Regions from separate parts of the Homo sapiens genome. Here region 2 is linked to region 1. Evidence: fine-mapped expression QTL. A gene starts in region 1. The other region holds a variant in brackets. All regions are shown on one strand. Distances are from middle to middle.

Evidence for each region. PIP is the estimated chance that this variant, and not a neighbour inherited with it, causes the effect.
Region 2: its variant is the best candidate, but not a certain one, in a credible set for the expression of SLC9A2 in lung (TOPMed, PIP 0.71).

Annotation. Positions count from the first base shown.
Region 1 is chr2:102,616,610-102,621,992 of GRCh38, reverse strand. It overlaps SLC9A2 (solute carrier family 9 member A2), which reads right to left and starts at 2,440. Exons shown (of 12, transcript NM_003048.6): 1 at 1,856-2,440. The coding sequence starts at 2,144. RefSeq lists a silencer at 2,723-2,832.
Region 2 is chr2:102,587,186-102,592,568 of GRCh38, reverse strand. No RefSeq gene overlaps it. Among named protein-coding and RNA genes, the nearest start is that of SLC9A2, 30 kb to the left of the region's middle. The variant G/A (reference allele first, on the strand shown) is at 2,960.

The DNA.
Region 1 (5,383 bases):
GGCATGAAGATTTGCTTCCGGTTTACCTACCACAACTTCCACCCTCCTGTAAACCATCCCTTCTACCTGCTTTGCACTCCTCTCCCAATTTATGTCTTTGTTCAGTCCTCTCTGGAATGTTGCTCCCTTTTCTCTCTAACTGACCAGATCCTGGTCATCCTGGAAAATCCAGTTTAAATGTTTGCTCTGCATGAGGAAGTGTTCTCTGCTTCCCTGCAATGGCATACTATCTTTTCTGAGTTTGTCACCCTACTCAGCACTGTCCTGGGCAATAATCACACAGCGTGTACACGTCTCTCCACTCATCAGTAAGCTCCCTGAGGATGGCAGACAATGCGTCTTTTCATTCTTTATGGAAATCTGCCTCATCTCACAGGGTAAAGACGTAAAACACATGTAATGCATACATTCTTTGGACCTAACAACTTAATCGAATCATTATAACAATAGTTAATATTTCAGGATTTTTCTAAAGTCTTTAAAATATAAAGTAAAAATAATATAAAGCACCATGCTCATAACATGAAAGTTTCTGGGGCGTGGGTAATGAAGATGAGAAAATATATTCTGAGGTTTCTGCTTTCAAAATGAGAGTTAAAGGTAGTATGAAAGTGGGTAATTTTTTTTTTTTTTTTTTTTTCCCTGAGACAAGGTATCTCTCTGTGGCCCAGGCTGGAGTGCAGTGGTGCCATTCATGGCTCACTGCAACCGCAACCTCCTGAGTTTAAGCGATCCTCCTCCCTCAGGCTCCCGCCTCAGCCTCCAAGTAACTGGGAATACATATGTGCACCACAACACCAGGCTACCTAATTAATTAATTAATTGATTGATTAATTTTTGAGACAGAGTCTTGCTTTGTTGCCCAGGCTGGAGTGCAGTGGCAATCTCGGTTCAATGCAACCTCCGCCTCCTGGGTTCAAGCAATTCCCTCCCTCAGCCTCCCGAGTAGCTGGGATTACAGGCGCCCACCACCACGCCCGGCTAATTTTTTTGTATTTTTAGTAGAGACGAGGTTTCACCATGTTGATCAGTGATCCTCGTGATCCACCTTGCCTCAGCCTCCCAAAGTGCTGGGATTACAGGCGTGAATCACCTCGCCCGGCCAATTTTTTATTTTTGTACTGTTTGGTCTTGCTATGTTGCCCATGATGATCTTGAACTCCTGGCCTCAAGGGATCCTCACGTCTGGGCCTCCCAGTGTGCTGGGATTACAGGCTGGGCCATTGTCCTGGGCCCAGAGTTAATTATTTTTAAATATGCATCTCACCTCACTGGCCTCAGCCACCCCGAAGCAAAAGCTTCCTGGAGAGTGACAGCCTCAACCCAATAGAGGGAGGAGAAAGGGCGTTCCTATTGCAGCTGCAAGCACTCAGGTGTCCCTGGTCCCCTTCCATGCACCTCATTAGTCAGGCGCACAGCAGGGTCTGTGTCACTGCCAAGGCGCCTCTCTCCTGTAGCATCCAGGGTTTTAACCACATTATGCATAGCTCCGGGGTTCGTCGGCACCTCTCTCCCTGCAGGTGAGACTGGTACACTTCAATAAACAGATCTCACTCAACTTAAGCAGAGAGCTGACAAACTTGGCGTTCCGTGCGGCAGAAGTAAGCAGCAATCGCTGAGTTTGTAGAACTTACACTTGGGGCCATTTCAAGGCCAATGTTCCCTTAAGAACCAAAACGCGAAACTGCTCTTCCAAGGGTCCTTTTCAACCAGAAGAAGCTGCTCCATCTGTCGTCCCTGCCCTGATTCAAGATGAGGCGGTCACTATCTAGAGGTCAGCTGGCTGACCCGGTCACCCTCCAGGTGTCCCCCCGAGATCGCCCCCTCCCATTCCCCACAAGTCCAGTTCGCTCACCAATCTTGGCCAGGGAGGCCAGCAGGATCCAAAGGGTGATCTCGAAGGGGATCTGCACGTGGGGGTAATCCAGCGTAAACACAGGCAGCCGGCTCTCCTCGAACAGCGTCGTTCCGGGAGCCACCACGCTCGCAGGGCTAGGCGGGCTGGAACTGGTGCCCATGGCCCTCGGCGCGTTCAGCAAGGTCTCCGCCAGGGCGCCCACGGGCCCCGCCACCTGCAGGAGCAGCAGCAACAGCATCGGAGGCAGTGGCGCCCGCAGGCTCCTCCAGTTGCCCAGTGGTTCCATGGGTGCCGCCGGTTGCCGCCAAGGGGACCGGCGGTTGGCCCTCCGAGCGCTCAACGCATCGCGCCCGGGCTGCTCAGCCCGCTCCGCCCTGCCCCGTGCAGGGCAGGGCAGCGACAGCCACCCGCCGCTGCTGCGGCACCGGGTCTCTGCAACCAGAGGGCTAGGTCCTCGCTGCGAGCAGGCGCACTGCCTGGCGAGGCACGTGCAGGGCGACGAGAGGCCGCTGCGCGTACCCTCAGCAGCCCTCAGCCGCCCTCCGCCGCCGGCCGCCTGCCCATGCCGGTGCGCTGCTCTCCAGCCGCAGCGGCAGGCCCTGCCCAGGGCGGCCCGCGGGCGGGGGCGGGGCGGGCGCGGCGCCCAAGCCGCAGGGCAGGAGGACAAGGGGACCTGGCCGGCACACCGCGCACCTGCCCGAGCCCGCGGGGAACGCGGGGCCCCAGTGACCGCGGGGGCGATGGCTGCCCTCCCTTCGCGCAGGCACCGCGCGCCAAGACCCGCCACCCCCAGAGCCAGCGAACTGTGGGTGGAATCGCCGCAACGGGCGCATGGTGGCCGGAGCTGTCTCCGCCCCGGAGGCAGCGTCGGACGTCCATCCAGTGAAGGAACCAGCGCGACCCACGAGTCGCGCCCTTCCCTCCTCCCCCGCCCCCGCAGGCTCCTCCAAGGGGACACCCCGGTGCGCTGGGCGCGCGGGGAGGCGCCACAGGCTCGCGGTCCGGAGGAGAAGCCCGGGCCGGTGGAGGAGGAGTGCTGTCACCCCAGCCTGGCGCTGCGGAGGCCAAGACAAGGCATGGGATTCTCTGGACGTACAGAAAGTTTAGGAAAGCCAAATTTTGTTTCCTTTCCGAGAGTTATCAACTCGCGCACAAGGTGCTCTGAACAGGGAAACTCCCTGCGCGGAACTCAGTGTTCCCACGCCCCCACGGAATCGGAATCCTGTTCTCTCCTCTTGCCACATTGTGCTGCTTTCACCCATTTGCTACACTGTCGCTGCCACTTTTCTTCTCCCTCCCCCAGCTCACGTAAAAAAAACCAAAACATCTTTCTCCGCTTTTAGGCTTAGAGGTGTACATGTCCAAGAGCATAAGAAATATAATTATTTCATGGAAAACCAGTGATTTGCCTCGCTCAGATTGACTTGCTCCGCTAATTACAGGACAGGCTGTGGTCAGGAAAAGAAAGGAAGCGTGATTCTTCTTCTGGATCTAAAAGGGCTTTCTCATGCAGAGCCAACCTTTCCTGTCCTTCAGAGCGCCTCCTTCACTGGTTGCGATCTCACTGTTTGAGCATCTTTATCGCCAGAAACCGAAATGAGCACAAAGGGGACTAGTTGCCATTCAATTAACTGAAAGTTTTCCCTTTGATATTTATGAAATAAAATCCTTCTCTTTTCTTAATCTTTGATGTGTCAAAACACGTGGCTTCTACTATTAAACAAACACCAGGCAGTTCGACCTTCAAAGCCGTTTTTTTTTTTTTTTTCTTTCAAAGTTCTAACATAGAAAATCAGTGAGATGTCAGCAGAGGGTACAAGAAAAAAAAATCCTCCACCTGCATAGAAGAAAATAAGGAACAGTCCTCTTTGGGTCTTCAAAGTAATGGAGGGACAAGTCCAGGCTAAAAAGAGAGAAGAATTCTGGGAGATGTTACAGAGCACTACTTCATTTGATATTTCACAAAGCATCAGTTTTTCAAAAGCGCTACAGAATTGAAACTAAAGATATTATCTTGAGAAGAATCATTGGGCATCCAAAACTCAGCCTCCCCTTCTCCTTTCACTGGAAACGTTTATTAAAGGTATGTGCCTAACATACCCCTGTGAAAAGGCAGCAAATAAGAGATTTTTAAATTTTTTGAGTATCTGTCTCTACATGGGAAGCTCAATACAAGGCACTTTACTTGCATTTTTTTGTCAATCGTAAAAATCCAAAGAGGCAGATATTTTTTACCCATTTTATAAGTGAAGAAATATAGTGTAGAAATGTGTAAAAATAAACAAATAGACTTAATCAAGTTTACATATTAAGTAAGTGTCTGGATGGAATTCACACCCAGGCCTGCCCAGGCTAACACTGGTATCATCTCACCCTCTACCCCATGACTAGTTGCCCATAAACAGCACGCTATATTCTCAGCTACTTTAAAATAAGCAGTGGAGAATATTACAGGGATTGTTCAAAAAAGTTACAGCAGGATAAAGTTTTGGTAAGTGAATCAGGCAGTTCTACAAACTTAGTGACATAGTAATAGGGAGAGGGCACATTTAGACAATACTTTCTAGGAGTTTGTCACACAACACTTTTAAGAATAATTGTGTATCATGAACAAGAAAATGAATGACAAATCTGTTTCCGGGCCCTCACTGCCTGTAAACCTTATGTGGTATCACTTCAACTTTATACATCTATGCTACTGCAGTTAAAGGCTATCCACTTTTTTTTACATTTGAAAAAAAAGTCGTTTTATTTATTCTTGTAAATGGGAGGCGAAGAAATTAGTCTAAAAAGACATTCTTTTCATCTTTCCCTTAAAGCAAATTTAAAAAGAGTTAAATTATGCCCCTATGCTGAGAGCGACTTGGCCTGGCTATTTCTTCAAAGTGCCCTCTGACTAGGAGCTCAGCCGTGAAAGTGATAACACCACCCATGGGATGACTGAAGCAAGAAGCGAAACGTGTGTACACATTTAAAATCCTTTAGTGGTTTCTTAGCGACCTTTGGACGTCTCACCTGGTAGCTGAATTTCTGGACTAATTGGGGGGTCTTCTTTTATGCCCTTTGATCTCCCATAACTTTTCAGCACTTAATCATTTTGCTTTTCTCCCACTGAACATCTCTGTGAAGGTATTGGTCTGTTTAACTCATTCTTTTATCTTTAGCTCCTAGCATATTGCCCGGAGACAGTGAGTACCCGCTAAATATGTGTTGGACGAATAAATGTATGAATTGACGGTGAAATCAACAACTCTCACACACTACGGATCTGAGCTGCAGGGCTTTCTCACAGTTAGGCCAGTTGCAGGATGGACATGAATTCTCCTAGTTTTACATGAAATGTTTTCTCCAGTGATCCCTCATTCACATTTTGGCATCTCTCATGTCTTTTTTCCCCCTTCTACCCAAATGATGTGTGAATTTAATCACATTACAAGATTTCTAAATATTTTTAGAAATTATAGTTACCTGATTTCAGATTGACTTTCACATAGCATAGAAATATTTACTAGGAATTTATGAACC
Region 2 (5,383 bases), 29 kb after region 1:
CAAAAGTATCTAAATATCCTATTTAGATTTGGCATGCTGATATGCACAAATAGAATTTAGCAGCATTTATGTAAAGTATCAAGCATGAACTATTTTTCTCCCCTAAATCTGATTAACTTGCATCATTTGAATCTATTCTATATTTCTAGATATTTTGCAGGCATTTCTTCAAACAAACAAATAGACAAGAACATCCTCATGAATCTTTTCCTTTGAGAAATAAACTAATATGTGTTATCATTCATCTTTCATCATTGCAACTACCTGCAGCAGGTAGTAGTCAAACCCTATCCATTATCTTCCCCTAGAGCAGTGAGTGTTTCTCAACCTAGCTTAGGAGGTCTTTTACAAATCCCCATGCCTAGGCTTTATGCCAGGCCGATTACATCAGAGTCCTGAAGGAAGTGGGGGTACAGGTAGCCATCAATATCTTCTAAAGCTCCCACAAGAGTCCAATATGCAGCTAAGATACAGCGCCATTGCTCTAGCATGTCTTCAGCTGTGGTCATCAACTTAGGCTCCAAAACTGATATTTTATGAATGATTGGAAAGTGCCTGACAAATAAAAGGTCATTTTGCTCTTTAAAAAAATTGCATGGACTGAAAGCAGGGCTGCTACTGCAGTTGGATTTGAGGAAATGGTGTAGTTGCAGGAGCTTGTACCCTTTTGAAGGCTGCCAACAATTATCTGTGGGTCATGTGAAATGAGTTTTATGTCAACAGAGTTGAAGCTGTTTTCTCTGAGTGGTTAACTACTTTTGCCTGGTTAAATAAGCAAACAAAAGTGAAATAGGGAAAAGAGCAGAGTTTGATTAGCCTTGTGTTCACCTGAGATAAGTGGCCTCCCTTTCTCTTAGGTTTAGTCTAGAACAGAAACTACCTCTCCGGCCTCCCCGGCCCTGGATTGTAATTGATAGCAGGTGCTGATTGATACAGGGACATTAATATCCACCATATTCACTGGTTCTCATCACAACGAGTATAGGTCCATGATTTGAGTTTTACAACTTCCTTCTTAAATGAAATGGCTACTCTTTTAATTGACATGAGCTTTAAGCTAGGTAAACAGTAGCTGCATGATGAGAATTGGTATAATTTAAAATATTCTTATAAAAACTTAGTTTATTGAAATCTGGTGATTATTTTTAATGACCCAAAATTGCTAAATTAGTTGACTACATTATGGACAAAGTATATAAAAAAGATAATTTACCTAAAAGAAAATAAAAATGTATAAGCAAGATGAAAATTGTTCATTTATAGTGAAAGGTTGCAAATGAAAGCAAAAATAAATGTTATTTCCTCTACTAAATTATTTTAAAAAGTATATCATGGTGCCTAATATTGGGAAATATAAAAATGAAACTAGTAAATCTACCCATTGCTGAGAAGCACATAAACTGGCAGATAATGTTTGAAAAATAATTTGACAACAGTTATAAGAGCTTTAAAACATTCAAACTCTAAGTAATAGCAACCTAGCACTATTAATATAATACTCAGTGTTGTTAATATTAATATTATAGGCTATAAGAGGAAAACATATTTTAAAAAATTATAGGACAATTTGTAAGTCAAGAAAAATTCCAGAGTGTAATATCCTTTTTAAAAATTAAAATCAGAAAATAGAACAAGAACATAGATTTATTTGAATATACATTATTTTCCAAATACTTTTGAATTCAATTATTTGGAACATAATTGAATCTAAATGTCTCACAATACATTATGCAATTATATCTACATATAAGATATTATTCAGGTATGTTGAATATGCCAAAAATATTAGTTTAATAATTTAAAATTATCAGTGAAGCAACATAGAAAAGGTTTATGCCATACATGTGATCAAGAATGAGTCCATTCAAAGCTCAGGAATAAAATCATGAGTTCCTTAAGACCTCAGGAAAGATAAAAAAAAAAAAAGTCAAGCAACGTGCAATCTTTGCTATAATAGAGGTTTATCTAATTATTGTGTGACGTAAGGTGGAGAGACAATATTGGGTATTTAGTCAGCTTTTGAAGTGAAGGAGGAACCACCTGAAACAAAATTTGGGAGGACAATATCAGCAGGCAGATATTTGTGTACAGTTGGTTAACCAGCTATAGAAAGCAGACTAATCAAAGAGAGAAATATGTGTTTGCAGAAGGCATGCTGGGGAAGTGAAAATAAATTATTTTGTTGATAAAATTATACACTCTTATCCAGCAATTCATCCATTCGTTCAATCCATCAGTCAGGATCTACTCAGCAGCTACTTTGACTACACACTTCTGGGTGTGCAATTTAGTGGCGAATAAGATCCTGTCTCTGTACTCAAGGGGCTCAAAATCCAAAGCATAAGACAGAAAAGGAGTTAAGTGTTGAATTGACGAAAGTGCTATGCAGAGAATTCATATGGGGTGGTGATGCTCCCAAACATTCATTATTGGATTTCATGACAATAGTAACCTATGAAGTAGAAATTCTGTGTTGGGACCCTTTAAATTAGTTTGGTGAGGGAGTAACAATCATGACATCAACACCCAAACCAAAAATGCACTCCTGAAATAAATTTTCCAACAGAAGAATAAGGACTAGCAGGAGGAGGAAATCACAACTTTACCAAAGAAGCGGAAACCATAGTTTTTCACTCATCAGACTTTGTTCTCCTCCAATTTTTGTCCTTTAAGATTCTGCCTGGACTTTGAGATTTAGTATAAAATCCACCTTCCCTATTCAAGATAAGACATTTCATTTAATGAAGAAATATGTGCTTGGTACCTACTACGTGTTAAGCACACTGTTAGGGCCTGGGGACACAGACGATTCTTGCTCTCTGTCCTCAAAGAGCATTGACTGTAGAGGAGGTGGCCAAAAACTATGTGATCAAAGCTGATAGTCTTGTACTTCAAAACCAAATTGGGCAATCAAGGCCAGCTTCCTGAGAGAGGTGTGATTTGAGTAAGGTTTTGAGGC[G/A]TGAATAAGAGTTCAAAAGTTAAAAGAAAGGTGTGTGGAGTGGTAAAAAAAAATTCAAAAGGAAAAGCACAATGATAACAAAGATCTCATTATTCATTATGCTGTTATACTGGATGTCATGCATTTTACATACATTAATCAAATCTTAACATCGAATCTTAGCCTTATGAAGTAGGTGTGACTCCTGTCATCATCATATGTATTTTATAGTGAACTGAGGCACAAAACTGTTCAAAATGTGGCTCTGGAGGCTAATTTTTATCACTGGAAGCTAACAAGAATATTGACCTCTCCTGGTGTTGGGCTCCTCTCTCAAACTACAGCTCATTCTATTGGCTGTGCTGTGTTGTGTTATTTTCTGTTCATGGATGTATTTTATCTCTCAACTGTACTGGAAATTTCCAGAGAGCCCCACACTGTGCTTCTTCTATGATGCATGCTGCTTTACAGATGTGCTGAGGCTTTGTGTTACCAGCCACTTCAAGAGGAAAAGTCTGGTTTTAGCAAATCAGCAATTAAAAACCAAAAAAAAAACACAACCCTTTGCAAGACATAATCCTGGTCTCTTTCAAATGTTAGAGATGAGTCTGAATACATTTATTTTTTCTTAATTATTTCATCATGTGTGCAACATACATTAAAGTCTCAAGAATATTCTTAAAATCTTTTAGGTGATTTATTGCTAGTAATAAGTTGCCTATATTTAATCCATAATTTGTTGGGCAATGTATTGCTTTTATCTTCCCAAAACTATCTCTTCCAATCTGGAATAGGTCTTTTGAGTTTTTTAAGAAGAGAAGGCCAGGCTGGTTTTGCTCTTACCTACGTGTTTGCAATGTCTCTGGAGTGAGGTGCCAGCACTTCATGATCTCCACGGCACCACCTGGTTCTACTGGTCGGTCTCCGTGGTTTTACCTCTAGGGAATTTTCAACTTTCCAGATATACAGATTCTAACCTATTTATTCTACCTCCTATGAAACCTTCTATAACACTTTAATCATACCATTGCTTTTTTAGATGTGCCTTTTTTTGTGTGAAGTGTGATAATCAAATCCACATGACAGTTTCAGATGGATCATTTTCTTAAGGGTATAAAGCTTATTCTGGGAGCATTGAAGCCTCAGCAAGGGAGAATTTGTTTCCCATGTGATTAGCACCTGCCCAAAGGACATAAATCATAACCAGGGATTAAATTAGACACCAAGGAAACAAGCACAACAGGGCTTAGCTCCTCGGGGAGGAAGCAGGGCAGGCAAGGGGAGAAACAGAGGCTGGGTCACGCAGCGCAGGTCCGGCCCAGAAAAAGAGCCTTTACACTAGAATTGGTTACAGAGTGCTGCAGTCTAAATGAAACACTCTGGTTTACCCAAGATCAAACACTTGATGTAGTTCTCAAAAATGTAGATTCCTGGGCTCCAGCACAGATCAACTAGATCACTTGAAGGAGAAAGGCGGAAGGGTGTATAGACATCTGAGCTTTTAAATTCCCCAGGTGATCCTTTTTAATTTTTTTTAATTTTTATTTTTTGTGGTTACATAGTGTATATATTTGTGGGTTACATGAGATATTTTGATACAGATGTGCAATGTGTCATAATCATATCAAGGTTAATGGAGTAGCTATCACCTCCAGCACTTATCCTTTGTGTTACAAACAATCCAGCTATACTTATTTATTTATGTATTTATTTATGTATTTATTTTGAAACAGAATCTCATTCCGTCACCCGGGTTGGAGTGCAGTGGCATGATCTCGGCTCACTGTAGCCTCCACCTCCCAGGTTCAAGTGATACTGCTGCTTCAGCCTCCTGAATAGCTAGGATTACAGGCATGTGCCACTACACCCAGCTAATTTTTGCATTTCTAGTAGAGATGGGATTTCGCCACGTTGGCCAGGCTGGTCTCGAACTCCTGGACTCAAGTGAACCGCCTGCCTCGGCCTCCCAAAGTATTGGAATTACAGGCATGAGCCACTGCGCCCGGCCCTTTTTAGCTTTTTTAAATGTACAATTTAATTATTACTGATTAAAGTCACCCTGTTGTGCTATCAAATACTCGATCGTATTCTTTCCATTGTTTTTGTATCCATTAACCATCGCTACTTCCCCCTCTCCCTCACTATCCTTCCCAGACTCTGGTAACCATCATTCTACTCTCTCCCCAGGTGAGTGATTCTTCTACCCACAATGAAGGTTGAGAATCATTAAGATAAAATGTTAGTGTAACAAGTAAGTATTATTTTAAGTGTGATTACCCTTAATCCCGAGAAAATATTTCATATGTCCAAATGTCCAGAAAAAAACTTTTTAAATCTTTCTACTTGTCCAATTGCTTCAATTGAAAGCCTCGAAAAAAAAGCAATTTAAAATCATGTGGCAAATCTAAGATGGCATAATCTCATATTTCTTTCAACTTTGGTTAA